4 linked regions of the Homo sapiens genome follow. The protein of the gene in region 3 purifies or fractionates together with the protein of the main gene of each other region. This does not show direct contact. Each region holds a gene or a part of one and is shown on either strand. Other genes may lie near its edges. The genes, in order: SMAP2, WDR73, SLC2A14 and EPN1.

Region 1 (8,601 bases), on a different chromosome or scaffold from region 3:
TACAGAGTATAGCATACATATGAAAAACATGTTTGGTCTTGCCAGTGATAAAAAATGCAATTTAAAATGCACTTTATGCAGGGAGAAAGATCTTTCTATAATGGTGGGAGGGATGAAGTGAAACCAGTACTCTTATACAATGCTGAGAAGAGAGAGTAAAATGGTACAAATTCTGGAAAGTATATTGGCAAAACTAGGAAGAGACAAATGTTGAAATCCTTTGACCTAGATGATACCATATCTTGTAATGTATCTTACGAAAATAGTCCAAAATATGAAAAAGGTTAAATGCACCAAGTTCACCCCAGAATTATTTATGCTAAAAAAAATTAAATAACATTTATGCCACAGAAGGGAAATGGTAAATAAATTATTACTTTCAGTGATTTAGCTACTCACTGAAAGATGATGCAACAATTAAAAATTATAAACACTATATAAGCAACACAGAAATATATGTTAAGTGGAATGAAGGCACGAGAAGTCTACATAACTGTATTATAATTATGCCTCCAAAAAGAAACTATTTAGAAAAAAAGGGGAACACACCAAGAAGATAATTATTAGCAAAGATAGTGAGAGTATGTATGGATATTTCACTTTAATTTTCATTTTCTCTAAAATAATTTTATAATCAATACATGCAGCTGTTTTTCTCATACAAAGTGTATGTCTTTAACACGACATTTCATTTAAGTTAAAAATGTTTTATCTGTCCATTATAAAAAGAATAGTTTTTAACAAAGCCAGTTTCTTTTCATTTGATATTAAACGTCTTCACTTAGCAAATACTAATTATTGGCATAAAAATCTTCACAAAATATGAAAAAAATCTAAGTACATTAAATAACAAATTCTGAAATAGCTTTTTGGTAAATGGGAGGTTATTTCCTTCCTAAGAGAAACATCCGGTAACCGGGCTTGCTTTCATGGGTACAGTATACCAGCAATGAAATCATGAATACCCTGAGGGCAGAGCTGCTGTTTCCACAATAGCTGTGTACAAATAGCAACTCTACTCCTTCGTCATCTGAATTATCTCAGATACCCTTTTCTGACCTCATCTGAGTTCATATCTTTAGGCACAATGAACAGAGCTGGGCAGACAGACCACAGTTTTCTACAAATAAAACGAAATGTGTATGCTTGGGTTCTAAACTGTTTTTGATGATGCCATGCAAGCTGTAGCTGCACACTGGGTTCTTTCTTGGCACAGATATGATATTGACAAGTCCCTTTTCTGGATAACTGCAAGGTAAGAGTCCTTCATACACAGTTGAGAAGGAATCATTTTTACCTAACTATATGTATTACACTTACTTGCCTGTGTTGAAATTCACCTACCAGTTAATGCCCCTTTCACACAGCTTCATAAGATCAGCCTGAAGTGGATTCCAATTAGCTTAACTTTTAATTACCCAGAAGGGCTTGGAGCTCAGTGCAAACAGTGATTTCACTGGCTATTATATCATTATTACATAACTAGAATAGATGATAGATAGGTAGGACCTGCGCTGGAAGTGGAGAATCCCTTACTCTCAATACTTCTGTGACTAGATAAATAGCCAATTATTCCTAAGAGAATTTTCTGTAGAATCTTGTCAAAGGTTATTTAAAGGTATAAATAGTCATATCTATTGGTTCTCCATTAGCTGTCATTAGTTAGGCATATTTTCCTCTTTCAGAAATCATGCTGTCTGTCCCCCTGTGTGTTATATTTGTCCTAGTTATCATATACTGTATTGCAGATTCTAAACATGCCTAGGATGGAATGTGTTCTTGGCAACTGGTAGCCAGTCTCCCTCTGAAACCCTTCTCAGAAACAAGGGTCCCATTGGCAATCAGTCCAACACACTGGTTATCAGCAGGTAATGCTGGAAATATACATTGGTCAAACTGAAGGAAACTCTGGTGATTTAATTACACCTACTTTTGTTGATTTCATTTACAGGAAAAAAGTATATATGTGTGTATATATCTATGTAGATAGATATAGCTGTAGTACATATACACATATACTGTTTTATTTGATCTAGTATATGCAACATGTCCATCCCAAGAAATAATTCAAAACTGGGAATCATCACTAACACCTTCTAACTACAGATTAAGGCAAGAATTCACCGATAGGCAGAAGTTTGTTTCTGCCTCATGGTCTTGACTCAGTAACTGGCACTTTTTACTTTTGCTTAAAAATTTATATTGAGACAGGGTCAAACTCCGTTGCCTAGACTGGAATGAAGTGGTGCAATCACAGCTCACTGCAGCCTCAACCTCCCTGGCTCACGTAATCCTCCGACCTCAGCCTCCCAAGTAGCTGGTTATTACAGGCATGTATACCACCATGCCTGGCTAATTTTTAAATTTTTTGTAGAGATGGGGGTCTTTCTTTGTTGCCCAGGCTGGTCTTAAACTTCTAGGTTCAAGTGATCCTCCCACCTCAGCCTCCCAAAGTGATGGGATTAGGGGATGAGCCACCACACCTGGTCTACTTTTGCATTTTTTAAAAGATGGTTTTGGAGTGTTTTGGTAGCAGTTCTTCAACGTGTTCTCTGGCCTGATTTAATAAGCACATTACTTATTGTGGACAAAACTTGAAAGATGTATAACCAACCCTAAAGGCATTGATGTCCAGACTTCGGTCCATGTATTTCTTCTTCTCATATTTGTCTCGAATAAATCCTTCAACAGCTCTGCAAAAAGCTTATTAAGGATGAATCCAACAAGCCTCTCAAACAGCAAGAAGATAAAAGATCAATTGTGTTCCACGGAGCATTGTTCTCCTCCTTCCCTCTTGCCTGGTTTCCCCACATGGCTCCTGCCTCTTCATATGCAATTTCTCTGACCAAAACCTTAAAATGCCTCTTTCACAGTTAAAGCAGGGAATCATTACTTCCTATGCTTTCCCTTCAGCGTGATGATAGCAGCAAGTGGAATTAACCTTCAAACTGACATTAGAGGCTGTATGTGGCTGTTCTAGAATATAGGTAAAGCAGTCAAATGTCTATTTTAAAGCACTTAGGTCAATAGGCCTCAAACAAAGGCACGTAAGTGCCCCTTAAAAACATAAACTCTTGTGCCCCACTGCCAAATTCTGACCAGTGGGTCTTCTGCAAGGCCCCAAATCTGCATTTAACAGGTTCCACCTGAACCCATTAAAAAAAAAAGAACCTTAACAAGATGATCTACAAACTACATTTTGAGAAGCACTGCCTTTAAGGGATTTGGTTTTGTGTCCTAGGTGCTATGCTCTGTTGAACAGATGGTGGAAGAAAGTTATTGGTTATTGACAAACTGGTAAACAACAGTTAATTCTTTCACCCAAGACATAAAAAGATGATAAAAATGAATGGCAATTTTGCTGACTGCCAGGGTTAACAGAGCACAATGAACTACTCTTTTTAATCAAACAATAGTTTCAGAGATCCAAAATAAACTAGTGGAGATGTAACTTTATAGAAGAATTCACAGTGAAATCACTGCAGTCTTAATTCCAGAGTGAGTCTTCTTCAAGTGACACCGTATGACAATTCCGACATTCACAAATACATGTGCTTTTTGTGCACCTTGATTGCAGGACAGAGGACAAGCAAGGACACTGACTAATCCACATAGAGATGACCCAGTCACATTACAGGACTGGAGTCTTGTCTGACTCTCCCCAAGCATCAAAATACCACTCAGCCTTCTAAGTTGCTCCAGAAAAGATACGGGTCTATCTGAGGTCGCCGAAAGGTCTCAGGAAGATAGGCTTCATAAAGTCGGTTTGCCTTTCCATTTCCCATCTCTTGCATGCACTGTGACCAAAGAGAATGTAGAAACATGGAACGTCAGATCAAGAAAGAACTGAAAAACTTCTCACCCAATTCCACTACTGTACAATTGAAGAACCAACCTAGAGAGTGTCAGAACCAACATTTAAACTTGTGTATTCTGATTTCCAATTCATGATTCCCTCTACCTTACTAGGATTTCCCAATCATTTGCCCCAAGCTGTCTTTCCCCCACTCCATAGGTTCCTTTTACTGAAATATTTGTGTACCAAGATACATTCAATTCAGTAATAAATCAAGATCTCATTTGAAACTCTTAGATACACAGCTACCAATTAAAATGTCTACTTGGCAGGCAATGATCAGTGTTATCATTCTGAGTTTATACTATTAATCAATTCCAATAAATGTGTTTCCCATTAGGCTTTTAAGTAGACTCCTTAACACTTGTGAGGGATAAATCCCAAGAGCTTTTTAAATCTCCAAATTCCCGACTATCTCCATGGCATATAATTTCCTTCATAAAACAGAGTGAAGTGTAACTGAAAAATGTAACTCACCTTTTTAGACCTTTAATACATCTATAAATACAATCTAAAGCAATTTCTAAAGCCATTTTCTGGTTAAGCGTAACCTCTGATTTCCATTACCAACTTTAGCAACTGGATTTGGGGGGCGGGGGGCTTCCCTTTTACTCCCAAGAAAGAAAAAATTGAAATTAAAGCGTTTCAATGTAGGAAGAGAATAAAAAATAATGAAGCTATATCAAGGTACAGCTCTTAGGCCAGCCAGACTCATTAACTTAGGAGTCTCACTCCAAGCCCACCAAGCTAACAGCATGCAAGATTCATGTATGCATTCCAGCTGTTACAGCTTTTTAAAGATGATAACAATAAATCTAATATACACATTGTCCTATTTAATATACTTTTAAGGTTAATTATGTTTAAATTTATTTAAAATTTTTGAAATTTTAAATGTTATCTAATTCCACATTTGTATGTGTCTAAAAATATCAGAAATGATGAGTTTACAAAAATGGATACATTTTAATATTATGTACCATTAAAATATTTTCTCTGTCTTAAAAAAAAGATTCATGTATGCATTTTAGTAATAAAATTTTCCCATAAGTCTATGATTTGGAGGTTTTTTTAAAAAGTGAATTTTTATTTATTTATTTTTTTGAGACAGGGTCTCACTCTATTGCTCAGGCTAGAGTGCAATGGCATGATCATGACTAACCGCAGCTTCAACTTCTGGGCTCAAGCAATCCTCCCACCTCAGCTTCCCAAACTGCTGGGATTACAGGTACGTACCACCAGGCCCAGCTAATTTTTTAATTCTTTATTTTGTAGAGACAGGTGTCTCACTCTGTTGCCCAGGCTGGTCTTGAACTCCTAGACTCAAGAGATCCACCCACCTCGGCCTTACAAAGTGCTGGGATTACAGGCATGAGCCACCGTGCCCGACCAAAAGTGAATATTTGAAACTATAAATTTTAGACCTGCAAATGCTAAGAGTCTTAGAAAATCACCCAAAGATCCCTCTTAATACTTTCGTGGGCCCATGGAATCCTAGACCGTAGACTATTTCTGTTTTTAAGGAGGTAAAATATAGGTAGAATAACTTGTATCTTAAATAGAAAGAATAAAAATTTCTGTTAGGGTACAAGAATCTGATGTTAAGTGTTTAACAACTAAATTTTCCTTTATCTTCACCTTTGTGCCAGGTTTGACTGAAATTCATCTGGAATTCCTTTTACATAGATATATGGAAGCAGCTGACTCACTCTTGGGCTAAGTACCTGAATCTGTTCTTGAGTCCACTGGTCGAGGTTAACTGACTTTACCCTGGATATGTGCACCCCCAGATTCCTGTGGATTCCAGCACATCGAATGCAGATGAACACACCAATGTTCCAAGAGGCCCATCGCGGCCCTGTGAAAGTCAGGAACAGGGCAATAAAGTACAAATTACAACATTCAAGGCCTAAACTACAATATTAGATTATCAGACATTTCTGCTAGAACATAAGTGAAATAATTTTTACCATAACCACCTGTTTATTGACTCTGCTCATTCCTCCATGTGTCAGCTTTTCTTTAGTTTAAATTTAAGTGTACAATACAGTGGTTTTTAATATATTCACACAGTTGTGCAATGATTACTACTATCTAATTCCAGAACATTTTCATTAGTCCAAAAGAAATCACAAACCCATTAGCAGGCACTACCCATTTTCTCCCAGCTCTTCCTCCCAGCCCCTGGCAACTATGAATCTACTTTTTATCTCTATGGATTGCCAATTCTGGGCATTTAATATAAAAAGAATTATATAATAAGTGGGCATTTGTGCATGGTACAATTTTTTTACAGTGTCTGCTAATATGAGTGTTGAAACGCAGATGTTATAAGACTGTTACTTATATTAAGAAAAATCCCAGGAGTGCAAAGCCATGTCATATTCTATTTGGCCGAGCACCTTACATAAACAGTCCTCTCCCAAGAGACGTTTTAGTGGTGATGGGCCTGTATTCACCACTTTTTAGTGGTGGCCTGTATTCGGTTTTCCTACCAGGAAAAAAGATAGATATGGCATGCTTGTCCATGGCTCAACCTGTAATTGAAACTGTGTTTATCTTCCCCCCAACCCCAGGCCTATAAAATATGCATTCGCATTAACTTAATAGGATCTTTTCCCCTTAGGCTGATGTTCCTACTTTACTCAACTACTGAAGTATCTTGTTTCAAGATTGCCAAATAATAAAGATGCTTATAGCAACAAAAAAGAAATCTCAAATATGAATTTTAATTCAAAACTGTTACAGAATCTCCCATCCCCTGCCAGTGTTACTCATCCTAATAATCACTCTGAAAAATTATCATACTCCTCTTCATAATTTTTACCCAGGAAAGAAAAATGACTTATATGAAACCTGCCAAAAACTTACTAAAAAATCAGAAATACTTCCTTCTCCATTATCCCACTTGGCAGAAATTTACCACATAAAATAAGTGTGATATAAAAATTAGAGGATGCAATAAAGAGGTGAAAAGACACTGATTTTCTACAGAGATAAACAGGGCCTACGCTTGGAACGACAACGAGCACAAGACTTCAGTTCTTTAGGACACAGACAATTATTTGGTTAGCTAGCAGGTTTTTAATTTTTTAATTTTTATTTTTAGAGGCAGTCTCGCTGTCACCCGGACAGGGAGTGCTGTGGCACGATCATAGCTCACTGCAGCCTCGTCTTCCTGGGCTCAAGCGATCCTCCTGCCTCAGCCTCTGGAGTAGCTGGGACTATAGGCGTGTGCCACCCTGCCTGGCTAATATTTTTATTTACTGTAGAGACTAGGTCTCACTATGTTGCCCAGGCTGGTCTTGAACTCCTGTCCTCAAACAATTCTCCCACTTTGGCCTCCCGAAGTGCTGGGATTACAGGTGTGAGCCATTGTGCCTGGCCAGCCTGAAGGTTTTGACAGCAGTTTTAATGAAGGAATGCTAGAATTGTGTGGCAGAAAATTAGTTTTAGAAATTTGAATTCATGATTATTACAAATAAGAATGTAATTTTTTGACAAAGATATCACTTATTTACTATCGCAAATACTGCAACAGAAGGCTCACATTCTCCTTATTACCACCAGGTGGTGCTCTCCGCCTGAAATTTTATCCCAATACCTTATTGCTATCACAAGCTCCGATTTACCTTCTAAAAAGATATTTAGTCCCTTCACATTCCTAGATGGATTTACATAGTTGGTCCGCCATGTATCTAATAAACACAAAAATGATTCGCACACTTGTTTCATGTGGGAGAGTGTCACGTCAAACACAAAATGAAAACCCTAAACTGATGTAAATGGGGTTTCTTAACATGTGGTATATCCATTTTAGGTTACAGTTTTCATAAAGGAACTCCAATAAGATCTAAGTTATATAAGATTTAAAATGGCACCAAGTTAATATTTCATGTTTCTTAAAGCACTTTTCCTTTGCTCTAGATTCCAGAGTCTAGAACTCATAAGACAAGTTAAGATGTATTTGTTTGCTAACAAAGTCAGAAGCCAAACACATTCATTAAAAATTAAAAGTCAGCTGTGAAATGTTACACTGTTTGCTTCCTGGCCTTAAGATGGGAAAAGGCAATTCCCAATCATCTAAGCCACTGTCACAGCTCCCACTCCAGCGTACTTAAAGTCTTTTTGCTTCTGAGGAATGCAAGGCTAAGACTTGGAGCCTTGGGGTGACTCTGAAGCCACTGACAAGGCCTCAGTACAGAAATACAGGCAACTGTATTTTCATGAAAAGCCAAAGAACAGCCTCTTCTCCCCACCAAATCCCTACCTGACATCCCTTGTGAAACCTTTTCCCAGTGAATATAGTGATAGTTATATCCCAGATACTCAATCTCTTTTAGTTTTGAGCCACTAGATTTATTAGTGAATAACTACATGTTCCATAAAATATTCTGAAATTAGAGAAAAGAAAAATAAAAGAGACAAATGTTACTTATATGGCTGAAAACATGGGGAAATGGTGTAGTTACTTTTATTTCATTTTATTCTTTACAGACAGGGTCTCTCACTCTGTTGCCCAGGCTGGAATGCAGAGGCAAGATCATGGTTCACTGTAACCTCAAACTCCTCGCCTCAAGCGATTCTCCCACCTCAGCCTCCCATGTAGCTGGGACTACAGGCATGCAACACCATGCCCAGCTAATTTTTTAATTTTTTTAAAGACAAGGTCTCCCTATGTTGCTTAGGCTGGTTGTGAACTCCTGGCCTCAAGGAATCCTCTCGCCTCAGCCTCCCAAAGCACT
Region 2 (8,601 bases), on a different chromosome or scaffold from region 3:
CTGGCTATGAAAGCCTGAAAAAGAATGAAATTCTTCATCTGAAATTACCTCTCAGACTTTCTGTAAAGGAAAACAAGGTAACTTAAAATATAAATGCTGAGTATGTCAACTTTTATTTATTTATTAAACATTTGTGGAGCTCCTGTTATCTACCAGGTATTGTCCTGGATACTAGAAAGAGAGAAAGCGCTAGGCCTGCCCTTCTAGTCTAACAGAGGGAGGCACATATGCACAGAGATAAATGCTGTAGAATGTCTCGTGGTTTACAGAGGGCTATCAGAGGAGGAGGTCAGTTATACTTTATCAGAAATAGATTTAGGGAGCGATTAAGGATATAGAGGGCGGTCGAAATGCGTAGAGTGATTAAAGTCACCTAGTGAATGTGTGGTATATAAGGAGTGAGGAGAATATAGTGAGGACGGAACCTCAGGGAACACATTTAAGGGATGAGTACAGGAAGATGCACCCCCCCTCCCCAAAGAATACTAAGAAAGAACAGCCTCTGAGGTAAGAGGAATCTCAGAAAAGGTCAATGTTTCTGAAGCCAAGAGAAGAGAACTTCTCAAGAAAAAAAGAGTTAGTAGCTGTCTAGAGTTCCAATAAAATCATTGAGAGAAGAATTGAAGGCCAGGTGCAGTGGCTTACGCCTGTAATCCCAGCACTTTGGGAGGCCGAGTTGGGCGGATCATGAGGTCAGGAGTTCGGGACCATCCTGACCAACATGGTGAAACCCCGTCTCTACTAAAAATACAAAAATTAGCCAGGCATGGTGGCGCACACCTGTAATCCCAGCTACTCAGGAGGCTGAGGCAGGAGAATTGCTTGAACCCGGGAGGCGGAGGTTGTAGTGAGCTGAGATCGTGCCACTGCACTCCAGCCTGGGCAACAGCAAGACTGCATCTCAAAAAAAAAAATCATTCAGATGAGGAATTGAGTTCATTCATAAGACTGGCAATTGGGAAACTCTTGGTGACCTCTGCTACAGGATTTTTGCTGGTGGTGGTCAGGCCCAAAGACTAAAAATGAAGAGGAAGCAGAGTCACGAAATGTAGGGAGGGAAGAAGCTAAAGCAGCAACTAGTCGGAAACACAGATCTGAGGGAAGGTTTCCTAAACACAGAGGCTTGAGCAGAGTTAGAAGCTATGGGAAAGTAACCCTTGAAGAGGGAGAGGGTGAAAATGAGGGAATATCACAGGGAACACGCTCCTGCTTCCAGGAATAGAAGGTGAGGATAGATCAGGAGTCCAGGGGATGGTATTAGTCATCAGAGGACAAGGGAGGAGTGAGGCATGCAGGCAGATGACCTTGAAGGGCCATGTGGGGGCAGGAATTTGAGTGTTTGCTCCTGAATTCCTTTTTGTTTTGAGACAAGGGCTTGCTCTGTCACCCAGGCTGGAGTGCAGTGGCGCGATCCCTGGCTCACTACAGTCTAAACCTCCCAGGCTCAAGTGATCCTCCCGCCTCAGCCTCCCAAGTAGCTGGGACTACAGGCATGTGCCACCATGCTTGGCTAATTGTTAAATTTTTTTGTAGAGATGAGGTTTCACTGTGTTGGCCAGGCTGGTCTCGAACGCTTGGCTTCAAGTGATCCGCCTGCTTCGGCCTCCCAAAGTGCTGGGATTACTGGCATGAGCCATCACTCCTGGCCCCAAACTTCTTAAAAAAATTTTTTTTTTTTTTTGAGGTCTCACTCTGTCACCTAGGCTGGAGTGCAGTGGCGCGATCTCAGCTCACTGCAACCTCTGCCTCCTGGGCTCAAGCCATCCTCCCACTTCAGCATCCCGAGTAGTTGGGACCACAGGCATGTGCCACCACACCTGGTTAATTTTTGTATTTTTTGGTAGGGACGGGGTCTTGCCAAGCTGTTCTCAAACTCCTGAGCTCAAGCAATCCTCCTGCCTCCCAAAGTGCTGGGATTCCAGGTGTGAACCACCGCACTTGGCCTTTTTTATTTTGTTTTGTTTTAAATTATTTAATGAAATAGGAAACAATCCGAGTGCGGTGACTCATGCCTGTAATCCCAGCACCTTGGGAGCGGGAGACCAACGTGGGCAGATCACTAGAGGCCAGAAGTTCAAGACCAGCCTGGCCAACATGGTGAAACCCCATCTCTACTAAAAATAAAACAAATTTGGCCAGGCGCGTGGCTCACACCTGTAATCCCAGCACTTTGGGAGGCTGAGGTGGGCGGATCACAAGGTCAGGAGTTCGAGACCAGTCTGGCCAATATGGTGAAACCCCATCTCTACTAATAATACAAAAATTAGCCGGGTGTGGTGGCATGCGCCTGTAGTACCAGCTACTCAGGAGGCTGAGGCAGAAGAATTGCTTGAACCTGGGAGGTGGAGCTTGCAGTGAGCCAACATCAAGCCACTGCATCCAGCCTGGGTGACAGAGTGAGACTCCGTCTCAAAAAAAAGAAAAAGAAAAAGAAAATTAGCCGGGTGTGGTGGTATATGCCTTTAATCCCAGCTACTCAGGGGAGGCTGAGGCACCAGAGAATCCCTTAAACCCAGGAGGCAGAGGTTGCAGTGACCTGAGATGGCACCACTGCACTTCCAGCCTAGGTAACAGCATGACACTCCGTCTCACAAAAATAAGTAAATAAATTTATCTTAGGGCCTCACCATGTTATGGAGTTGAGTCTAATTGTTTAGAAGAGAAGAGGCTAAGAGGCTAGACAAGGACATAGAAAAACATTGTTCAGCCTGGGAGAGGCTAGATCCCATGCAGATGTGGCCCAGTTTTTATCAAAGTAGCCTGAGGACCACCCTACCAGGGCCATTAGGAGTGCTGGCTAAAATGCATATTCCTAGCATACTTCCCAAACATACTGAATTATAATCTCAAGAGGGAAAGCTTAGGAAAAATGCCAAGTTTGTAGACTGACATGGTGACTCACACCTGTAATCCCAGCACTTTTTGAAGCTGAGGCGGTGGACTGCTTGAGCCTAGGAGTTCAAGTCCAGCCTGGACAACATGGCAAGCCCATCTCTTCACAAAATTTAAAAAGTTAAAAAAGACCAGGTGTGGTGGCTTATGTCTGTAATCCCAGCACTTTGGGAGGCTGAGGCAGGCGGATCACCTGAGGTTGGGAGTTCGAGACCAGCCTGGGCAACATGGCAAAACCCTGTCTCTACTAAAAATACAAAAATTAACTGGGTGTGGTGGTGCACACCTGTAGTCCCAGCTACTCAGGAGGCTGAGGCAGGAGAATAGCTTAAACTGGGGAGACAGAGGTTGCAGTGAGCCAAGATCACGCCACTGCCCTCCAGCCTGGGCTACAGAGTGAGACTCTGTCTCAAAAAAAAGTTAAAAAAAAAAAAAAAGCCAAATTTGTACTCATAAAACCCAGAGGCTACAGAAGCTATAGGGTAGCACCTAGTGTTCTTCATCTTCCCCATCTCCAGTCAGGCTTGAGTCAGGGGTTCACCCAGACTGAGCCTAGCTGTGAGAACTGATTTAACCTCCCCGCTCACCACCAGCTTTGCCTTGTTTCTTCTATGGCCACCTCCTTTTCCCTTGCCTCTGGTTCCTTACATGGAGATAGTAGAGCCTAGTGGCTAACAGTGTGGACTTGGGTTAGACAGACTTTGGTTCAAATTCACAACTTAATACTTGTATGACCTTATATAAGTGGCTGAAGCTCCTTGTGCCTTAGTTGTGTCATTTGTAGAATAGGGATAATTATAGTACCTATATCATAGGAGGTTGTAAGAATTAAATGTGATAAAGCCCTAAACACTGCGCCTGACACAGTGAATACTGATAAGTTGTAATTGTTAATTTTTATCGTTAGAGGAACCCACCTGACTTCCAGCGGGAGAATGGAGGGAGAAATGGGGATGTGTTCATTGCTCTCTTTGATGAAGCTGTTAAGCTTCTCTGGCTTCTCTAGGAAGGCCTGGAGTATAATGCTTGTGCTGTAGTAAAAGGGGCTAGTGAAAGGCTAGGAGAAGGGTTTTGGATGTGCAAAGGAAAAAGGAAGCTGTACGTGTAGGCAGCTGAGACCAACATTGCCAAATACCAGGACACCAACGCCCTTTCACCAGCTGAGTGGCTTCCATGGCCTCCTGCCAGGCTAGGACCTGACTCCTCACTTAGAGTTCCTCTGAAATGTTCATTTGAAGAGCTGGCTCTGATTGGCTACTCCTTTGTATTTTAGGGCTTATTCCCAGAAAGAGATTTCAAAGTGCGCCATGGAGGATTTTCAGACAGGTCTATCTTTGATCTAAAGCATGTGCCACATACCAGGTATGGTCAATTTTGTGATCCAGCCATCCACACAGGATGGGATGGGATGGCTGCAAATGCCTGGGGGTATTCTGCCTCCTCATCTCCATTCCCACCCCCTCAGCACACAGGCACATGTGAGTGCACAAGTGTGTGCACACAGATACACACAGATTTAGAATACAAAGAAACCACTGCTGTGGCTTCATAGCCCCCCAGAGCCCTTGGACTAATGTAAGTAACAGTTCTACCGGAGTTGCTCCAGGGAATAGATACGGGACAGAAAGATGCTCTTCTATTGCTCTTGGGTGATAATTGCTCAGTTGGGAGAGGCCAAGAGTCTCTGGGTCAGGTTGTGTTTGGCCCCATACTTGTGTCCTCTGTAGGTGACCATCATGACACATGGAAGCTTGGGCTCAGTCTCCCTAAAGTTGATTGAGCCTGCTCCTTATCTGTGAAATGAGGGTGGTTGGCCTTGATGATCTTGCAGTAAGATGTCCTGATATGGGAAGTGGAGTCCCAAGCTAAGTGTGCTGGAAAGGGGAAGGGACCTGTGTGGATAAGCTCCCCATGGTCTGGACTGATTTTGTCTTTTCTGAATAGATTGCTGGTTACCAGTGGCCTTCCAGGTTGTTATCTGCAGGTGTGGCAGGTTGCAGAGGACAGTGGTGAGTGAATTTGACTTGATGGGGTTTGGGGTTCTAGGAAAGTGTGACTCATACACCCCTGTCCCCTAATCTGAGCCAGTTAAGAAGGAGACTCAGGCTGGGGACAGTCTCATGCCTGTAATTGTAGCACTTTGGGAGGCTGAGCTGGGTGGATCACTTGAATTCAGGAGTTGAAGACCACCTTGTACAACATGGTGAAACCTGTCTCTATTAAAAATACAAAAAATTAGCCGGGCATGGTGGTAGGCACCTGTAATCCCTGCTACTGGGGAGACTGAGGCAGGAGAATTGCTTGAACCTGGGAGGCGGAGGTTACAGTGAGCCGAGATCATGCCACTGCACTCCAGCCTGGGCAACAAGAGCAAAACTCCGTCTCCAAAAAAAAAAGTAGTAGTAGACTCAGAGCCAGGTGGGAATTAATCTACTTTAATGCAGACAAGGTGAATTAGCAACCATAGCATGGCATCCAAGCCCCAAATGGAGCTTCCTGTAACCTGCTCCTGGAATTGAGTTCATCCAGAGAACTACTCTCCCTAGGCAGGGGCAGTGGCAACAGCAGAGCTTAGGCTGCTCAGGTGAGCTCACCTCTTTGGCAGCATTAAGCATATATTAAGAGAAGCCTCAGATGTAGAATACAGAGAGGAGAACCTCCCTGCTAACCAAGCAGGTGGAGACAACCAAATAAAAACTAAAACTTGGCTGGGCGCAGTGGCTCATGCCTGTAATCCCAGCACTTTGGGAGGCCAAGGTAGGTGGGTCACCTGACCAGGAGTTTGAGCCCAGCCCGAGCAACATGGCGAAACCCCGTCTCTACTAAAAATACAAAAAAATTAGCTGGGCATGAGGGTGCACATCTGTAATTCCAGCTACTCAGGAGGCTGAGGCAGAAGAATTTCTTGAACCTGAGAGGCGGAGGCTGCAGTGAGCTGAGATTGTGCCACTGGACTCCAGCCTGGGCAACAGAGTGAGACTCTGTCTCAAAAAAACAAAAGAACCAAAACAAAACTTGACTCAAAGCCAAGGATGTTCCATTCAGTGTAAAAAAGATGTGGACTTTCTTGTCCACCTTACAAGACAATGACATCTGTAATGTGACCTGTACTTGCTAGGCTTTAGCAAGTCACTCGAGGTCATGGAACATGTTTTTGAAGAAATAATATCAGTTCATGAATTCTGTACCTGTTTCTTGTCGCTGAAGGGGTAAGTGACATCAGCAGCATGTTCATTCCTTTTCTTGTCTTCTACCTGTTCTCCACAAAAGTATAAAAAGCCAGAATTGCTTTTTGGGTTTTGAGATGGCATTGTCTTCCATTTGCAAAAAACAGTTTATAAGACAAATAATAAAGAAATTGAAATGTTTCTGATGGTTTCAAAAATGTAAACATAAGCCAGAGTAGTTATGTCTCAACATCATCTCTTGCCAGCCGGCAGCTCCTTTTCTTCCTTGATCTTCTAAATGTACAGGGGAAGACAGCTGGCAGCCTGTCATGTTTCAAACCTTCATTAAAGTTCTGGATTTTGGCCTCTTCGTTTTCCCCTAGATGTCATTAAAGCTGTCAGCACCATTGCTGTGCATGAGAAAGAGGAGAGTCTCTGGCCTAGGGTGGCCGTCTTCTCCACATTGGCACCCGGAGTCCTCCATGGGGCGAGGCTCCGAAGTCTGCAGGTCGTTGATCTGGAGTCCCGGAAGACCACGTACACCTCAGGTACCGTGGTACTTTGTCCCTTGCTTGCTGCTCCAGCCGGCATCACCCCCCAGCCCAACTCAGCCACTATAAAAACTGAGTTCAACTCTCTGTGCCAGGTGTTGGGGATACACAGTGAATAAGAGGTAAGCCCTGGCCTCTAAGGGCTCCTATGCTGGGGCAGGATTAGGCAGTCCCAGGGACCAGCACCCAACCAGCTGAGCAGACAATGGTGAGATGAGTGGGAAGGGAGATGTGATTTATTCTGCCTGGGACTGGTGGGAAGGGACCTGTGACCAGCCAGCCCTGCCAAATTGCCAGACCCATCTGCCTCCAGCCGCTTGTCTCCTTTGCTGTCGGTCTTCCAGATGTCAGTGACAGTGAGGAGCTGAGTAGCCTGCAGGTCCTAGATGCAGACACCTTTGCCTTCTGCTGTGCTTCAGGCCGGCTGGGGCTTGTTGACACCCGGCAGAAGTGGGCACCGTTGGAGAATCGCAGCCCTGGCCCTGGGTCTGGTGGAGAGAGATGGTGTGCTGAAGTTGGGAGCTGGGGCCAGGGCCCTGGGCCCAGCATTGCCAGCCTTGGCTCAGATGGGCGTCTTTGTCTTCTTGACCCCCGGGATCTCTGCCATCCTGTGAGCTCAGTCCAGTGCCCAGTATCCGTACCTAGCCCTGACCCAGAGCTGCTGCGAGTGACTTGGGCCCCAGGCCTGAAGAATTGCTTGGCCATCTCAGGTACTGCCGAGCAGGATTTCGTCTTGTTATCTGATCTCTTTCTTCCAGGAGACTGTTGGGTGCTCAGGAAGGAGCCTCCAGCACCATGATAAACCTGGCTCCAGGAGTTAAAGTTGCTCACAGAGAAATTCGAACTCTCCAGGTTCTTCAGTGGCAGGCCTTTTCCTACCCTGGCTACTAAACTTCCACACATTGGCAGCAGGCCTTTCCTAGCCTAGCAGGAATTCAGGTCTCAGGTTGGTGGAGGGGCCTGCAGACAGTAAGACACTGGGACAGACATCGGGCTGGGTCAGAAAGAAAAGGGGACAGTGGCTAACACGGTGAAACCCCGTCCCTACTAAAAATACAAAAAATTAGCCAGGCATGGTGGCAGGCGCCTGTAGTCCCAGCTACTTAGGAGGCTGAGGCAGAAGAATGGCGTGAACCTGGGAGGCGGAGCTTGCAGTGAGCTGAGATTGCACCACTGCACTCCAGCCTGGGCAACAGAGCGAGACTGTCTCAAAAAGAAAAAAAAAGAAAAAAAAAAAAAAAGCAGCAGGGACAGCACCTCAAGGGTACTTCTCAGCCTACTTGCCTTTTGAAATGTAGCAAGTTGGCCGGGTGCGGTGGCTCACACCTATAATCCCAGCACTTTGGGAGGTCGAGGCGGGTGGATCACAAGGTCAGGAGATCGAGACCATCGTGGCCAACATGGTGAAACCCCGTCTCTATGAAAATAAAAAAAATTAGCCGGGTGTTTTGGTGCACGCCTGTAGTCCCACCTACTTGGGAGGCTGAGGCAGGGGAATCGCTTGAACCCGGGAGTCAGAGGTTGCAGTGAGCTGAGATGACGCCACTGCACTCCAGACTGGCGACAGAGCAAGACTCTGTCTCAAAAAAAAAAAAAAAAAAAAAAGTAGCAAGCCAGCTAGGTCAGCAGGCCCCTGGTTCTGGTCTGGTGGTAGCTAGTTGCTTGCGGCACTTAATGTGGGTATCTAAAAGCCAACAGGAAGGATCCGTCGAGGCAGGTGGGGGTTGAAAAAAATCATTAAGAGAGCAAGAAAGGATGATTGGAAATGCCAGGATCCAGAAAGAACAGAAGAGCCAAGCTCAGGTAGAGGGGCTGGCTCTTCAGTACCAGGAAGATGGCAGGATGGAATGAGTGTGTGTGCAGCTAGATCGTGCAGGGACGTGAAGGTATTTCTCTCCAAAGGCTTCTGTTTCCCCCATCGAGTAGGAGACAAGGCCATCTGCTGAAAGGGACCCAGAGGTAGGGGACTGGACTCTGGGGCAACTTGAAAA
Region 3 (8,601 bases):
GGAATTCCTTTAAAGGTATGAGTTAAAATAAAACAGAAAATCAACACCTAAAATCTCCTAAAGAACAAAGTGGAGAAATAATGAATCTCTACCAAGAACCAATTATTTTAGGTTTCTCATTTGGATGGCTCTCCCACTAGATAGGTGGCGGGATTACTTCAAAAGTAATGAGACTACTACAAGGAGTTATTTCGTCCAGTGAGGGGAACAGGCTTTCTAGAAATCACTTTCTCTTCCCTGGACTCCATCCAAAATTAGAACCCATCAACCGCCATTAACTACAATGCCCATATTAGTTAATAATCCTAGATTTCAAGTACTACTACATGTAAACTATTATCTTAAAGATAAAGTTCCAAAGGAAATGAGTAGCTTTATTAAATAGGCATACAACTTTTCTGAGAAATCAAAGAGTTTCCATCTGAAGGACAGAAATTGTTAAGAGGTAATGTACAGACCTCAGGCACCACATCATTTACCCTCCAATAATGAACAACATTTCTCCCTGAATTCTTATTGCACCTTAACCTCTCCAGCATCAAATCTTTTACTCTATAACCTCTCTTTAAACACCTCCCTCTAATCTCAATTTCCTTCTGTTTTTATTATTTGGCAAAATTACACTTAAAAAATAAATATTTATGTAATTAAACCAGAGGATAAGATAAATAAAACTCAAGTTAATTTGCCGCGTAGAGCTGTATGGAAGTGAGGAAGGTGCTCTTACATAAACACCCTCCGGCTTCCACACTCATATGTATCTGCTTCCTGGTAAGTCTGAGGTTGGGGCAACTGCACCTTACTTTTCCTCTCCTATATCCTCTAGTGCGGCAATATCAGAACCCAAGGGAGGAAAAGCTGGCAAAGTTGTCATGTGCCAAGCGGCCAATCCCTCCTGAAATGAAGGTAGGTTCACTCGGTCTCTCCTAAGCAGAAGAGGATGTCCAGGAAATAAAATTTAAAAAGCCATTGAAGATCCAACAAACTGCAGCCTTGGGGTGCTCATGGAGTGCGTGGGATGAGAAAGAAATCAAGTAGCAGCATTCAGAAGCAGTCCTGGGTTCATCCTGATAAAGTCTCTCCCTTGTTGAGGGAGAGGTGGCTTTCCCATGCCGGGAGGGAGGTGGAAGGAGGCATGACTTAGACATTGGTGGTGGTCTCCTTAGCAGGCTCGATGCTGTTCATCCCCATGACGCCGTCCTTCCCAGATCTATCTGCACCGTGTGCCTGCCCTTCAAAGGCCCGTGTGATATCCTCAAAAGTCCTGCCACGGGTCTCAGGGACTTTGAAGAAGGTAAAGGCCAAGAAGGTAATGAGGAAGCCGGTGAAGATAATAAAAACGTAGGCTCCTAAATAGTACTAGTGAAAGGACAGAAAAAAGGAAGGTTGATATAAAAATCTGGTCATTGACAAATACAATTTCCTTCACATTCATATTTCCAATAGGCTTCAAGCTATAACCCTTCCATATTTAATGAAAACATAAAGGTTTCTTCAGAGATTTACTTATGATTCTATTGCTAACTTACTATATTTCTCTGTATTTTTCTTTCTGTCATTTTTTTTCATTAAAGTTAGATGCTTCCAAATGTCTACTGAGTATTTTTGGACTTTTGAGTATTATTATTATTATTATTATTTGGAGATGGAGTCTCACTCTGTCACCCAGGCTGGAGCGCAATGGCAGGATCTCGGCTCACTGCAACCTCCTCCTCTTGGGTTCAAGCGATTCTCCTGTCTCAGCCTCCTGAGTAGCTGGGACTACAGGTGCCCACCAGCACGCCTGGCTAATTTTTGTATTTTTAGCAGAGATGGGGTTTCACCATATTGGCCAGGCTGGTCTCAAACTCCTGACCTTGTAATCTGCCTGCCTTGGCCTCCCAAAGTGCTGGGATTACAGGCGTGAGCCACTGCACCTGGCCTTGAGTATTATTTTTAAAATCTGTGTTGCTGAGCTGGGTGTGGTGGCTCATGCCTGTAATCCCAGCACTTTTAGAGGCTGAGGCAGGTGGATCCCTTGAGGCCAGGAGTTTGAGACCAGCCTGGCCAACATGGCAAAACCCCGTCTCTACTAAAAATACAAAAAAAAAAATTGCTGGGAGTGGTGGCACGTGCCTGTAATCCTAGCTACTCAGGAGGCTGAGGCAAGAGAACCACTTGATCCCAGGAGGCAGAGGTTGCAGTGAGCCGAGAGTGAGCCACTGCATTCCACCGTGGGCAACAAAGTGAGACTCCGTCTCAAATAATAAAAAATGAATGGTTCCCAGTTTTGCCATCCCATTTCAATCTTTTCTGCCGTCATTTTTTTTCTATGTATTGTTGAAAATCTGGTTTATAGCCTTTGATGTCTAATCTTTCATAGCGTCAGTAATTACAGTAGTCCCCAGTTATCCAGTTTTGTTTTGTTTTGTTTTTTTTGAGACGGAGTTTCGCTCTTGTTGCCCAGGCTGGAGTGCAATGGCATGAGCTCCGCTCACAGCATCCTCCGCCTCCCAGGTTCAAGCGATTCTCCTGCCTCAGCCTCCTGAGTAGCTGGGATTACAGGTATGCACCACCAAACCTGGCAAATTTTGTATTTTTAGTAGAGGTGGGGATTTTCCATGTTGGTCAGGCTGGTCTTGCACTCCCAACCTCAGGTGATCCTCTCGCCTTGGTCTCCCAAAGTGCTGGGATTACAGGTGTGAGCCACCGTGCCTGGCCAGTTTTGTTTTTTTTTGTTTTTTTGTTTTTGTTTTTGTTTTTGAGATGGAGTTTTGCTCTTATTGCCCAGGCTTGAGTGCAATGGTGCAAGCTTGGCTCACTGCAACCTCTGCCTCCCATGTTCAAGCAATTCTCCTGCCTCAGCCTCCCAAGTACCTGAGATTACAGGCGCCTGCCACCACACCCAGCTAATTTCTTGAATTTTTATTTTTTATTTTTTTTATTTTTTTTATTTTTTTTGAGACGGAGTCTCGCTCTGTCGCCCAGGCCGGACTGCGGACTGCAGTGGCGCAATCTCGGCTCACTGCAAGCTCCGCTTCCCGGGTTCACGCCATTCTCCTGCCTCAGCCTCCCGAGTAGCTGGGACTACAGGCGCCCGCCACCGCTCCCGGCTAATTTTTTGTATTTTTAGTAGAGACGGGGTTTCACCTTGTTAGCCAGGATGGTCTCGATCTCCTGACCTCATGATCCACCCGCCTCGGCCTCCCAAAGTGCTGGGATTACAGGCGTGAGCCACCGCGCCCGGCCATTTCTTGAATTTTTAGTAGAGACGGGGTTTCTCGATATTGGCCAGGCTGGTCTCGAACTCCTGACCTCATGATCCTCCCACCTCAGCCTCCCAAAGTGCTGGGATTACAGGCGTGAGCCATCTCACCCATCTTCTTTTTTCTTCTTCACAATTTTATGGACAAAAGATATATTCTTAAACTGGGCACCATGGTGCCTGCCTGTAATCCCAGCACTTTGGGAGGCTGAGGTGGGAGGATCACTTGAACCCAGGAGTTTGAGACCAGCCTGGCCAACATAGCAAGCCCCTGTCTCTATTCGTAAATTGTTTTGTTTTGTTTTTGAGATGGAGTCTAGCTCTGTCACCCAGGCTGGAGTGTCATGGCAAGATCTTGGCTCACCACGAACTCCACCTCCTGGTTTCAAGCGATTCTCCTGCCTCAGCCTCCCGAGTAGCTAGGACTACAGGTTTGTGCCACCACGCCTGGCTAATTTTTGTATGTTTAGCAGAGATGGTGTTTCACCAGATGGTCAGGCTAATCTCGAACTCTTGACTGCAAGTGATCCGCCCACCTCCACCTCCCAAAGTCCTAGGATTACCGGCTTTGAGCCACTGCTCCCGGGTGCAATTTAAAACTTATGATTTGTTTATTTCTGGAATTTTCCATTTAATATTTTTAGACTGCAGGTAACTGAAACTGCAGATGAGGAGGGACTACTGTATTACTATTATTATTATATATATTTTTTGAGACGGAGTTTCTGTCTTGTTGCCCAGGCTGGAGTGCAATGGCCCGATCTCAGCTCACCGCAACCTCTGCCTCCTGGGCTCAAGCGATTCTCCTGCCTCAGCCTCCCAAGTAGTTTGGATTACAGGCATGCGCCACCATGCCCGGCTAATTTTGCATTTTTAGTAGAGACAGGGTTTCTCCATGTTGGTCAGAGTGGTCTCTACCTCCCGACCTCAGGTGATCTGCCTGCCTCAGCCGCCCAAAGTGCTGGGATTACAGGAGTGAGCCACCTCGCCCAGCCTGACTACTGTATTATTAAGGTGTATCTTCAATATGTCAGCCTACGTAGGCTGGTTTTAAGATAAGGTGAGTTGGCCGGGCATGGTGGCTCACGCCTGTAATCCCAGCACTTTGGGAGGCCAAGGCGGGCAGATTACCAGGTCAAGAGATCATGACCATCCTGGCCAACATGGGGAAACCCCATCTCTACTAAACATACAAAAATTAGCTGGGCACGGTGGCGGGTGCCTGTAGTCCCAGCTACTCAGGAGGCTGAGGCAGAAGAATCGCTTGTCAGTGAGCTGAGATCGGGCAACTGCACACCAGGGCGAGACTCAGTCTCAAAAATATATATATATATAGATAGATAGATAGATAGATAGATAGACAGATACATAGATAGATACATAGATACATAGATAAGGTGAGTTTACTTACAGCAGCAGAGGGGAAGAGCAATCCGACTAGGAAGTTGGAGGTCCAGTTGGAGCAGCCGGCCACTGCCATCGCAGCTGGGCGGGGGCCCTGGCTGAAGAGTTCGGCCACAATAAACCAGGGAATGGGGCCTGGTCCAATTTCAAAACAGGCCACAAAGACCAAGATAGCCCCAATACAGACAAAGCTCATCCCATTATAGTGATTCTGTAAGAGGAAGGAACACAGAAGATTAAATTTAAAGACAGTGTAACCCAGGATCTAGGTTCCCAGAGGCAACTAATGGCAAGCTCCTCCTGTCCTGACGTACAATACAAAGAGTGGCTGTGGAATCAAAAGGCTTGGATTTATTTTTATTTTTATATTTATTTTTTGAGACGGGGTCTTACTCTGTTGCCCAGGCTAGAGTGCAGTGGTGCTATAACAGCTCACTGCATCATCGACCTCCTGGGCTTAAGCAATCCTCCCACCTCAGCCTCTCAAATAGCTGGGACTTGAGGCATGTGCCACCACACCTGGCTAATTAAACAAAAGGTTTTCGTTGTTTTTTTGGCTGGGCACTGTGGCTCACGCCTATAGTCCCAGCACTTTGGGAGGGTGAAGTGAGTGGATTATTTGAGGTCAGGAGTTGGAGACCAGCCTGGCCAACATGGTGAAACCCTGTCTCTACTAAAAAACACAAAAATTAGCTGGGTGTGGTGGCGCATGCCTGTAATCCCAGCTACCAGGGAGGCTGAGGCAGGAGAATCAATGAAGCCTGGGAGGCAGAGATTGCAGTGAGCCAAGATGGCGACATTGCACTCCCAACTGGGTGACACAGCAAGACCCTGTCTCAAAAAACAAAAAACAAAAACAAAAAAATACTTTTTTTTTTTTTAGAGACAGTTTCTTGCCATGTTGCCTAGGCTGGTCTTGAACTTCTGGGCTCAAGCAATCCTCTCACCTTGGCCTCCCAAAGTGTTAAGATGACAGGAATGAAGCACTGCACCCAGCCAGGCTTGGATTTTTGAATCCCATCTATGTGATCTCATATATGTCACTTTGTACTGAGACCCCGTCATCATCCATAAAGTGTGATTACCTTGATATTATTTTAAGAATTAAATTAGGCAGGGCACAGTGGCTCATGCCTGTAATCCCAGCACTTTGGGAGGCTGAGGCAGGTGGATCACCTGAGGTTGGGAGTTCGAGACCAGTCTGACCAACATGGAGAAACCCTGTCTCTACTAAAAATAAAAAATTAGCTGGGCGTGGAGGTGCATGCCTGTAATCACAGCTACTCGGGAGGCTGATGCAGGAGAATCACTTGAACCCAGGAGGTAGAGGTTGTGGTGAGCTGAGATTGCACCACTGCACTCCAGCCTGGGCAACAAGAGCAAAACTCCGTCTCAAACAAACAAACAAACAAACAAAAGAATTAAATTAGATAACTTATTTTATAAACCATAATAATGTTCTCTAAATGTAAAGATTCTAACAGTTTACCTCCAGTTCTCTGATGACCCATGTTTCTTAAAAACTCTGGGCATCTTGCTTCTCTCCTCTGACTTTATTGACAAACTGCAACCTTAACAACCCACCCCTTGTGTCACAGAAGTCAACTGTAACCTCTCTTCTTTCCCCCTCCCTTTTTTTTCACCCAAAGAGCACTTACCTTTAATAACAAAGAAACAGTCATGAGCGTGGAACAAAAAGCCATCCCTCCAAGGCCTATCATATGCAGAGTCCTTCTTCCTGCCCTTTCCACCAGAAATAGCTGGAAGAAGAATATGACATGAAACTTCAGTTTTCCTTTCCATGAAAACAGCATCTGAGCTACTTGAAATCTGCCTTACCAACAGCAGGACACTTGTTATGGATACCCCTCCTGTGATTTATGATTTTATATACATACATATTGTGTGCCATTCACAGGTCCTGGCTCAAAATCCCCATAGCCCTTGGTAGAGTCTTTTGTCATAATGTTGGGATGCTTCAGGCCTCAGGAGCAGGCCTCAGATAACAGAATTCTTCTCTGACTTTCTCCTGCCCTCCCACTTGGCAGGACGCTAATCTGACTGTGGGTCATAAAACCCTCATTTCAGAGAGGGTCCTGCCCCACACCCTAGAGGAAGAAACGCTACAGAGAGGCCAACAAATCATCTAAGCAGACAGGCCCAGCTGGGTTCAGATCATTCCCTTTTTGTCCAATCACAGGTCAGAACAGTTGTCCATGCTTCAATCATGGAGAACCAATTAAGTCTGCATAAAAGGCCCAAAAGGTAGGGTATGGGGAGCTTCCAGATATCTGAACCCGTGGAAGCTGACAGGAAGGTCAGCAACAACTCATCTATGTGCTAGGAGTGCACCCCAACCCCACAGAGACAGAAGCTCCCATGCTCAGGATCCCTCCAGACCTCGCCCTGTGAATCTCTTCATCTGGTTGTGTATTTCTGTGCTTTAAAATATCCTTTAAATCAAACTAGGAAACAATTTTCCTGAGTACTGTGAGCCACTGTAGCAAATTAATCAAACCCAAAGAGGATGTCGTGGGAATCCTGATCTACAGCTGGTGAGTCAGAAGCACAGGTAAAACAACCTGGAGCTTGTGACTGGCATCAGGAGTTGGGGGCAGTCTTGGGAAATCGGCCACCAACCTGTGAGCTCTGATGCTATCTCCAGGTAGTGTCAGAATTAAATCACAGGACACCTAGATAGTGTCCACTACGGAACTGATTGCTTACTTGATGGGGACAAATCCTTATATATTTTGGGGGTCACAGAAATCTTCTGTTATTATTGTTGTTTTAGTGTAAAAACAGAGGAATAACAGTTTGAAAGTTTTTCCAAACACCTCTCCTCCAATTCCAAGTTCAAAACATACTGTATAGTCCCTTCTATACTTCCTCTTTTCCCATCCATCCATATTTGCTTGAAGAATGAAGACTACATTCAGCATTGAATGTATCTCTTTTTTCCAAAGGAAAATTAAACAACAGTCCGGGCACGCTGGCTCACACCTGTAATCCCAGTACTTTGGGAGGCCTAGGCAGGTGGATCACCAGAGGTCAGGAGTTCAAGACCAGCCTGGCCAACATGGCGAAACCCCGTCTCTACTAAAAATACAAAAATGAGTTGGGCGTGGTGGCGCACACCTGTATCCGAGCTACTTCGGAAGGCTGAGGCAGGAGAATCACTTGAACCCAGGAGGCTGAGGTTGCAGTGAGCCGAGATTGCACCACTGCACTCCAGCCTGGGCAACAGAGCAAGACTCTGTCTCAAAAAATTTAAAAAAATAAAAATAAATAACAAAAAAGGTGTAACTAAATAACGGTGGAGCCATGCAATCCATCTTTGAACATCTGTAGCAAGGATTCATTTCTCCCCCCAAAATTATCAAACCATCCAACTTACAGAAAGTAAAGTGAAGATAGTATTAACCACACCCGCGCTGATGGTGGCATAGATGGGCTGTTGAACACCTGCATCCTTGAAGATTCCTGTTGAGTAATAGAACACCTAGGAGAAAAGAAAACATGCAGCTTTGATAAAATTCTGCACACCACTTACACAGAACCCTCAAAAAATACTTAAGGCTGAGCGTGGTTGCACAGGCCTGTAATCCCAGCACTTTGGGAGGCCAAGGCAAGCAGATCGCCTGAGGTCAGGAGTTTGAGACCAGCCTGGCCAATATGGTGAAACCCTGTTTCTACTAAAAATATAAAAATTAGCTAGGCATGGTGGCACACACCTGTAGTCCCAGCTACTTGGGAGGCCAGACAGAACAAGACTCTGTCACCATAAAATAAAATTTAAAAAATACTTAAAAGTCCCAGGAGGTAAGAAGTCCTTTTACTACAATTTTTGTTCAATCCTAATATCCCTGAATTATCTTCTGAATCTTATCTCCTTTCTCTTTTTCTTTTTTGACGGAGTCTCAATCTGTCACCCAGGCTGGAGTGCAGTGGCA
Region 4 (5,409 bases), on a different chromosome or scaffold from region 3:
TCATACTGACATTGTGGCTGGAATATTTGTTGTTGTGGGATATATATATATATATATATTTAGAGTGTTGTGGGATATATATATATATTTAGAGACAAGGTCTTGCTCTATCACTAAAGCTGCATTGCAGTGTGTGATCATAGCTCACCATGGGATTCTTGATTTTCAGTGAGTATAAAGTGTAAGACAAAATAAGTCTTAGTTCAGGTATGCTGGATGGGAAGCCAGAGGTCTGCATAGCAGTTACAAAGAAGGCCTTATTATCTGGAAGAAAAGGGACCATAGAATGTCCATTGGTTGGGGAACAACCCAGCTTTAGTTTTTCCAGATTCTCTGCATGTGCAGGTTTATGAGACTGGAGAACTTTGATTTCTTCTTCCTCCTCCTCCTCTCTTTTCTTCTTCCTCTTCCTCCTTTTTCTCCTCCTTTCTTCCTTTATTTTTCTTTCTTCCTTTCCTCCTCTTTCTTCTCCTTTTTCCTCCTCTTTTCTTCCTTTCTTCTCTTTTTCTTCTTCTTTTTTTTTTTTTTTTAAAAGACCGTGTTTCGCTCTGTCACCCAGGCTGGAATGCAGTGGCGTACTGTTTTAGAAAAGTGAAAGAGGGCCGGGCGTGGTGGCTCATGTCTGAAATCCTAGCACTTTGGGAGGCTGAGGCGGGTGGATCACCTGAGGTTGGGAGTTCGAGACCAGCCTGGCCGACATGGCAAAACCCTGTCTCTACTAAAAATACAAAAATTAGCCGGGCATGATGGCAGATGCCTGTAATCTCAGCTCCTCAGTAGGCTAAGGCGGGAGAATCGCTTGAACCCAGAGGCAGAGGCTGCAGTGAGCCAAGATTGCAGCATTGCAGGAAAGAGAGAAAAAGGAGGGAAGGGGAAGGAAAAGGAAAGAAAGAAAAGAGGGGAAGGGAAGGGAGAGATTTAAAAAACAATAGTAAAGAGAGATTTAAAAAACAATAGTAAAGAGAGATTAAAAAAAAAAAGTAAATGGGCCAGGTGCGATGGCTTGTGCCTGTAATCCCAGCAGTTTGAGAGGCTGAAGTGGGAGGATCACTTGAAGCCAGGAGTACCAGACCAGCCTGGGAAACATAGTGAGACCCCGTCTATACTAAAAAATATTTAAATGGGCTGAGCGCGGTGGCTCAGGCCTGTAATCCCAGCACTTTGGGAGGCCGAGGCAGGCGGATTACCTCAGGTCAGGAGTTTGAGACCAGCCTGACCAACATGGCAAAACCCCATCTCTACTAAAAATACCAAAACAAAAACTAGCAGGGCATGGTGGCGCATGCCTGAAATCCCAGCTACTCAGGTGGCTGAGACAGGAGAATCACTTGAACCCAGGAGACGGAGGCTGCAGTGAGCCGAGATTGTGCCACTGCACTCCAGCCTGGGCGAGCAACAGAGTGAGGCTGTCTCTCAAAAAAAAAAAAAAAGGAACGGTAGTGTGCACCTGTGGTCCCAGCTACACAGGAGGCTGAGGCAGGAGCATCACTTGAACCCAGGAGTTCAAGGCTGCAGTGAGCTATGATGGCACCACTGCCCTCCAGACTGAGCCAAAAAGCAGACCCTGACTCTAAAACAAAAGAAAGAACAAATAACAAATGAAAATAAATACCCAAAAACCAGTCAAATGTGAAACTGGTGTCAGGGGTATGTTCTCCATGTTGAGCCCCTTCTGTGGAATATGACAGTGTCTCTATTTCGGGTAAAGGAAAGACCAAAATAACTTTCCAAGATGAAAAGCTAAGAGTGCTGATCTCATCACAGACATAGCCAGCTCTTCAGTTCAGACCACCTGGAAACCCTCCCCATGTCTTTTCAGAACAATGTCCTAAGAACCATAGGGGAAGTGGCCATAAAAACCATCTTTCCTTTGCAGACTGGGGTGGGGACTCTGGCCAATGCCATTCTGTTCTTCCATAATATCTTTCCCATCTTGACTGAGCATCAAATGAGGCCCACACACAAGATTCTCACCCACATGGCCGTGGCAAACTCCTTGGTTCTTCTTTCCACTGGAATCCCCCACACAATGGTGTCTTTTGTCCTATGGAAACCCTTGTCCAGTCTTGAGTGTAAACTCGTGTTTACAGGTCTTAAAGTCCTGACCTGGTGATCCGCCCGCGTGGACCTCCCAAAGTGCTGGAATTACAGGCGTGAGCCACCACTCCTGGCCTATGCCAGCATTCTTTAAAGTTGTGGGAAAAGGCCAAAAGCAAATAGAAAATTGGGCAAAAAAGTTCATAATTGCTTAAACATATGGAAAACCTGGAAGTAAAATTAAGCAAGTAAGTGCGAGCACTCTACATTGAAGATTATAGAAAATTCAGCCTCCCAAATATCCAAAGAATCCAGGAGTGTGCCAAGAGATCCAAGAGTAGGTCCACAATTTCTCATTCTCAGGAGAATCTGAGATTATATTTCAATCTAATGATAACTGATTATATAATCCAATTTCTGCATCATCTTGCTTTTATGTTTTGTAATAAAAATTTTAGACCAGGCCAATAAGGCATCAGCAATTTACCGTAGGGAACTAGGGAATGTTTAATTATGACAATGAAGTGTTTAATATTGTGTTTTGAAATATAAACAGTGTAGATATATTTGAATAATACTGAATTTTTAGAAAAATCTATTGGGGTGTCATATATAAAAGGATAAGTAGAGATTTGGAAATGCTTTTTTATTGGACAAGAAAATTGATCAAATCGAAATCTGGACAAACTAGAAAGTCTGGATGCTAGCAATACAATCTATAGACACATTCTAGCATCACTTCTGTGTCAGAAGTATCCGGATTGTGGTGCCTACAAATGCATGCTCCTACACACCAAGACATCCATTAAGAAAATAAAGCCATGCTTTCCAGAGCGTTTAGCACTTGTTTAACGTACTTGTGCTTCTAAATATCACAAGGCAGGATGGGATTTCTAAAGACAAGGGGATATAGGACCGAGGCAAAGACAATCAGCATGTACACTGAATCACACTCCATAATCATATTGCTAGAACACTTAGGGAGTACCTCTGAAATCACAGCCCTGCTGCCATGATGTGCAATTACAGGATAGAGGTGCCAGGTGAAGGTCCCACTGTGGCCAAGGAAAGCCTTTGTGAGACGACTACTTCAGGGTGTTCCCCATCAGAGGAGCACACCCCTGATCTTGTATTCCTCGTCAATCCAAGGTCCATGTGAAATGGTCAGATGGGGAATTTTTTCTTCCACAGACATCAGGATCTTCTGAGTTTCTTCATCAAAGCCAGATTTGTGCAGCCTGGGAAAATAGAAATAAAGTTTTTTTTTTTGTTTTTCATTTTTACACAGTATTGCCTCTCTACATTCTGATGTCTACCTCTCCTCTCCTCTTTATTCTTTCCTAGAAATCACTGGGAGAATTGTACTGAATTTGAAAAACAAGCATGAATCTTTCCTATAGGATAGGAAGCCTCTGATTTATACCATAAAGTGAAATTTCATATACAGGATGTATCAATTAAGATTTAATTCAAAAAAGATGAATTTAAGTTAAAAAGAAAAACACAGGATAACTTCCATTCATCTGATGTTCATATGCCCTGGCACATCTATTGCTTCTTATAATGTGCTTGCTTAAAAAAAAAAAACATGAGCTTTTCTCAGAGACACTAATATAATGAATTCATGTACCCATCACCAACTTCTACAATTACCAATATTCAGCCTCTTCCATTTACAACCTGCCCATTTTCTAAGAAATAATTAAAGCACATGCTACACCCATAAATATGTCAAACGTTCTTGTCTGTTTTCGCTATTTTCAGTTCCTTTCGTGTCATTGTCCCCTGAACCCACCTCAACAAAGCTGGTTTTTGTAGTCACCAATAACATCAATTTGTTAAATACATTCTATCCTACTTACCCAGTTAGCATTGAATACAGTTAATTACACTTTCTTGTTTATTTTTTCCCTTAGCTTACTGGACACGACTTCCTCCTGGCTTCTACTCCCTCAACAGCTATCGTTCTTGCTTTATACGTTGAATCTCTGTCTCTTTATAACTTCTAAATGTTCTCAGCATCAGGAAAATATAAAAAATAAGTTCACAAATAATTGGTAAGACTGGAACATAGGCCTTCCTGAAAGAATATAACTAACATTTGCAATTCTCTTCTCCCCTCTCCCGTGTCCTTCCTTCTTGCCAGGTGTTCATAGTTATATGCCTTTTTATCTCCAATTATAAAAAGAAGTTGAGGAGGATTAGCAGGTCACAAAATTTCGTAGACATTTAGACACAGGAGAAGTAGGAGTTTATCTTAAATCTTCAGAGGTAGGGAAGATGGCTAAGTTTCCTTTCAGCTACAGCGACACTATGAGAAAGTTACCCAGAAATAACTGCTCTGAATGCTTGCTACTGTGGAGATGACATGTTTTGGGTGTGGGGATGGTGGTTGAAGAGAAGGGAGACATTATTATTATTATTTTATAATGCAGGCCTTAAGTACCTGGCCTGTCCCTATGGGGACTGGGTCTCTGTCTCCTCTCTGAATTCATTTTTCCCTTTCTCTGCTATACAGCTCCCCGGGACTCCCTTCTGGCCCTGCAGGGTACAAGGCCTGGCCCCATCTCAGGGCCTTTATGTTTTGCTGTGCCCCCTTCACTTGGGGTCCTCCCTAGACATTCGTGATATGGTTTGAATCTGTGTCCCCACCCAAATCTCATATTTAATTGTAATCCCCAATGTTGGAGGTGGGGCCTGGTGGGAGGTGACTGGATCATGGGGGTGGATCCTTCGTGAATGGTTGAGCACCATCCCTTTGGTGCTGTTCTCATGATAGAGTTCTCACGAGATCTGGTTGTTTAAAAGTGTGTGGCATCCCCCCTGCTTCCTTTCCTCCTGCTCCCGCCACCAAAGACGTGCCTATTTCTGCTTCACATTCCGCCATGATTCAAAGTTTCCTGTGGCTACCTCAGAAGCAGAAGCTGCTATGCTTCTTGTACAGCCTGCAGATGCATAAGCCAATTAAACCTCTTTCCTTTATAAGTTACCAGTCTCTGCCAGGCATGGTGGCTCACGCTTGTAATCCCAGCTCTTTGAGAGGCTGAGGCAGGTGGATCACCTGAGGTCAGGAGTTCGAGACTAGCCTGGCCAACATGGTGAAACCCCGTCTCTACTAAAAATAGAAAAATTAGCTGAGCATGGTGGTGAGTGCCTGTAATCCCAGCTACTTGGGAGGCTGAGGCATGAGAATTCCTTGAGCCCGGGAGGCAGGGGTTGAAGTGAGCTGAGACTGTGCCACTGCACTCCAGCCTGGATGACAGAGCAAGACTCTGCCTCAAAAAAACAAAACAAAACAAAACAAAAAAAAAACCTTAAACAACATATTGTGAACTTTTCTTAGAGACACTAGCATAATGAATTCATGTACTC

Evidence for each region.
Region 1: the proteins of SLC2A14 (region 3) and SMAP2 purify together in Homo sapiens (affinity purification with mass spectrometry; 2 studies listed by BioGRID and IntAct, with this or other methods). This does not show direct contact.
Region 2: the proteins of SLC2A14 (region 3) and WDR73 purify together in Homo sapiens (affinity purification with mass spectrometry; 2 studies listed by BioGRID and IntAct, with this or other methods). This does not show direct contact.
Region 4: the proteins of SLC2A14 (region 3) and EPN1 purify together in Homo sapiens (affinity purification with mass spectrometry; 2 studies listed by BioGRID and IntAct, with this or other methods). This does not show direct contact.

The regions. Positions count from the first base shown.
Region 1 is NC_000001.11:40,403,849-40,412,449, reverse strand, and holds part of SMAP2 (stromal membrane-associated protein 2), read right to left. Parts: intron 5,715-8,601; coding exon 5,581-5,714; intron 3,798-5,580; coding exon 3,712-3,797; intron 2,694-3,711; coding exon 2,615-2,693; intron 1-2,614.
Region 2 is NC_000015.10:84,644,190-84,652,790, reverse strand, and holds part of WDR73 (integrator complex assembly factor WDR73), read left to right. Parts: coding exon 1-77; intron 78-4,165; coding exon 4,166-4,254; intron 4,255-4,836; coding exon 4,837-4,901; intron 4,902-6,442; coding exon 6,443-6,607; intron 6,608-6,705; exon of another isoform or gene 6,706-6,818; intron 6,819-6,954; coding exon 6,955-7,320; intron 7,321-8,601. UniProt on the Homo sapiens protein: Component of a multiprotein complex required for the assembly of the RNA endonuclease module of the integrator complex. Associates with INTS9 and INTS11 in the cytoplasm, stabilizing the INTS9-INTS11 heterodimer and blocking the active site of INTS11.
Region 3 is NC_000012.12:7,813,176-7,821,776, forward strand, and holds part of SLC2A14 (solute carrier family 2, facilitated glucose transporter member 14), read right to left. Parts: intron 8,151-8,601; coding exon 8,046-8,150; intron 6,409-8,045; coding exon 6,307-6,408; intron 4,860-6,306; coding exon 4,656-4,859; intron 1,360-4,655; coding exon 1,141-1,359; 3' UTR 1-1,140. UniProt on the Homo sapiens protein: Hexose transporter that can mediate the transport of glucose and dehydroascorbate across the cell membrane.
Region 4 is NC_000019.10:55,705,770-55,711,178, forward strand, and holds the end of EPN1 (epsin-1), read left to right. Parts: 3' UTR 1-3,142; coding exon of another isoform or gene 3,143-3,275; 3' UTR 3,276-3,764; downstream 3,765-5,409. Other genes in the region: NLRP9 (NACHT, LRR and PYD domains-containing protein 9), read right to left, coding at 3,143-3,275. UniProt on the Homo sapiens protein: Binds to membranes enriched in phosphatidylinositol 4,5-bisphosphate (PtdIns(4,5)P2). Modifies membrane curvature and facilitates the formation of clathrin-coated invaginations. Regulates receptor-mediated endocytosis.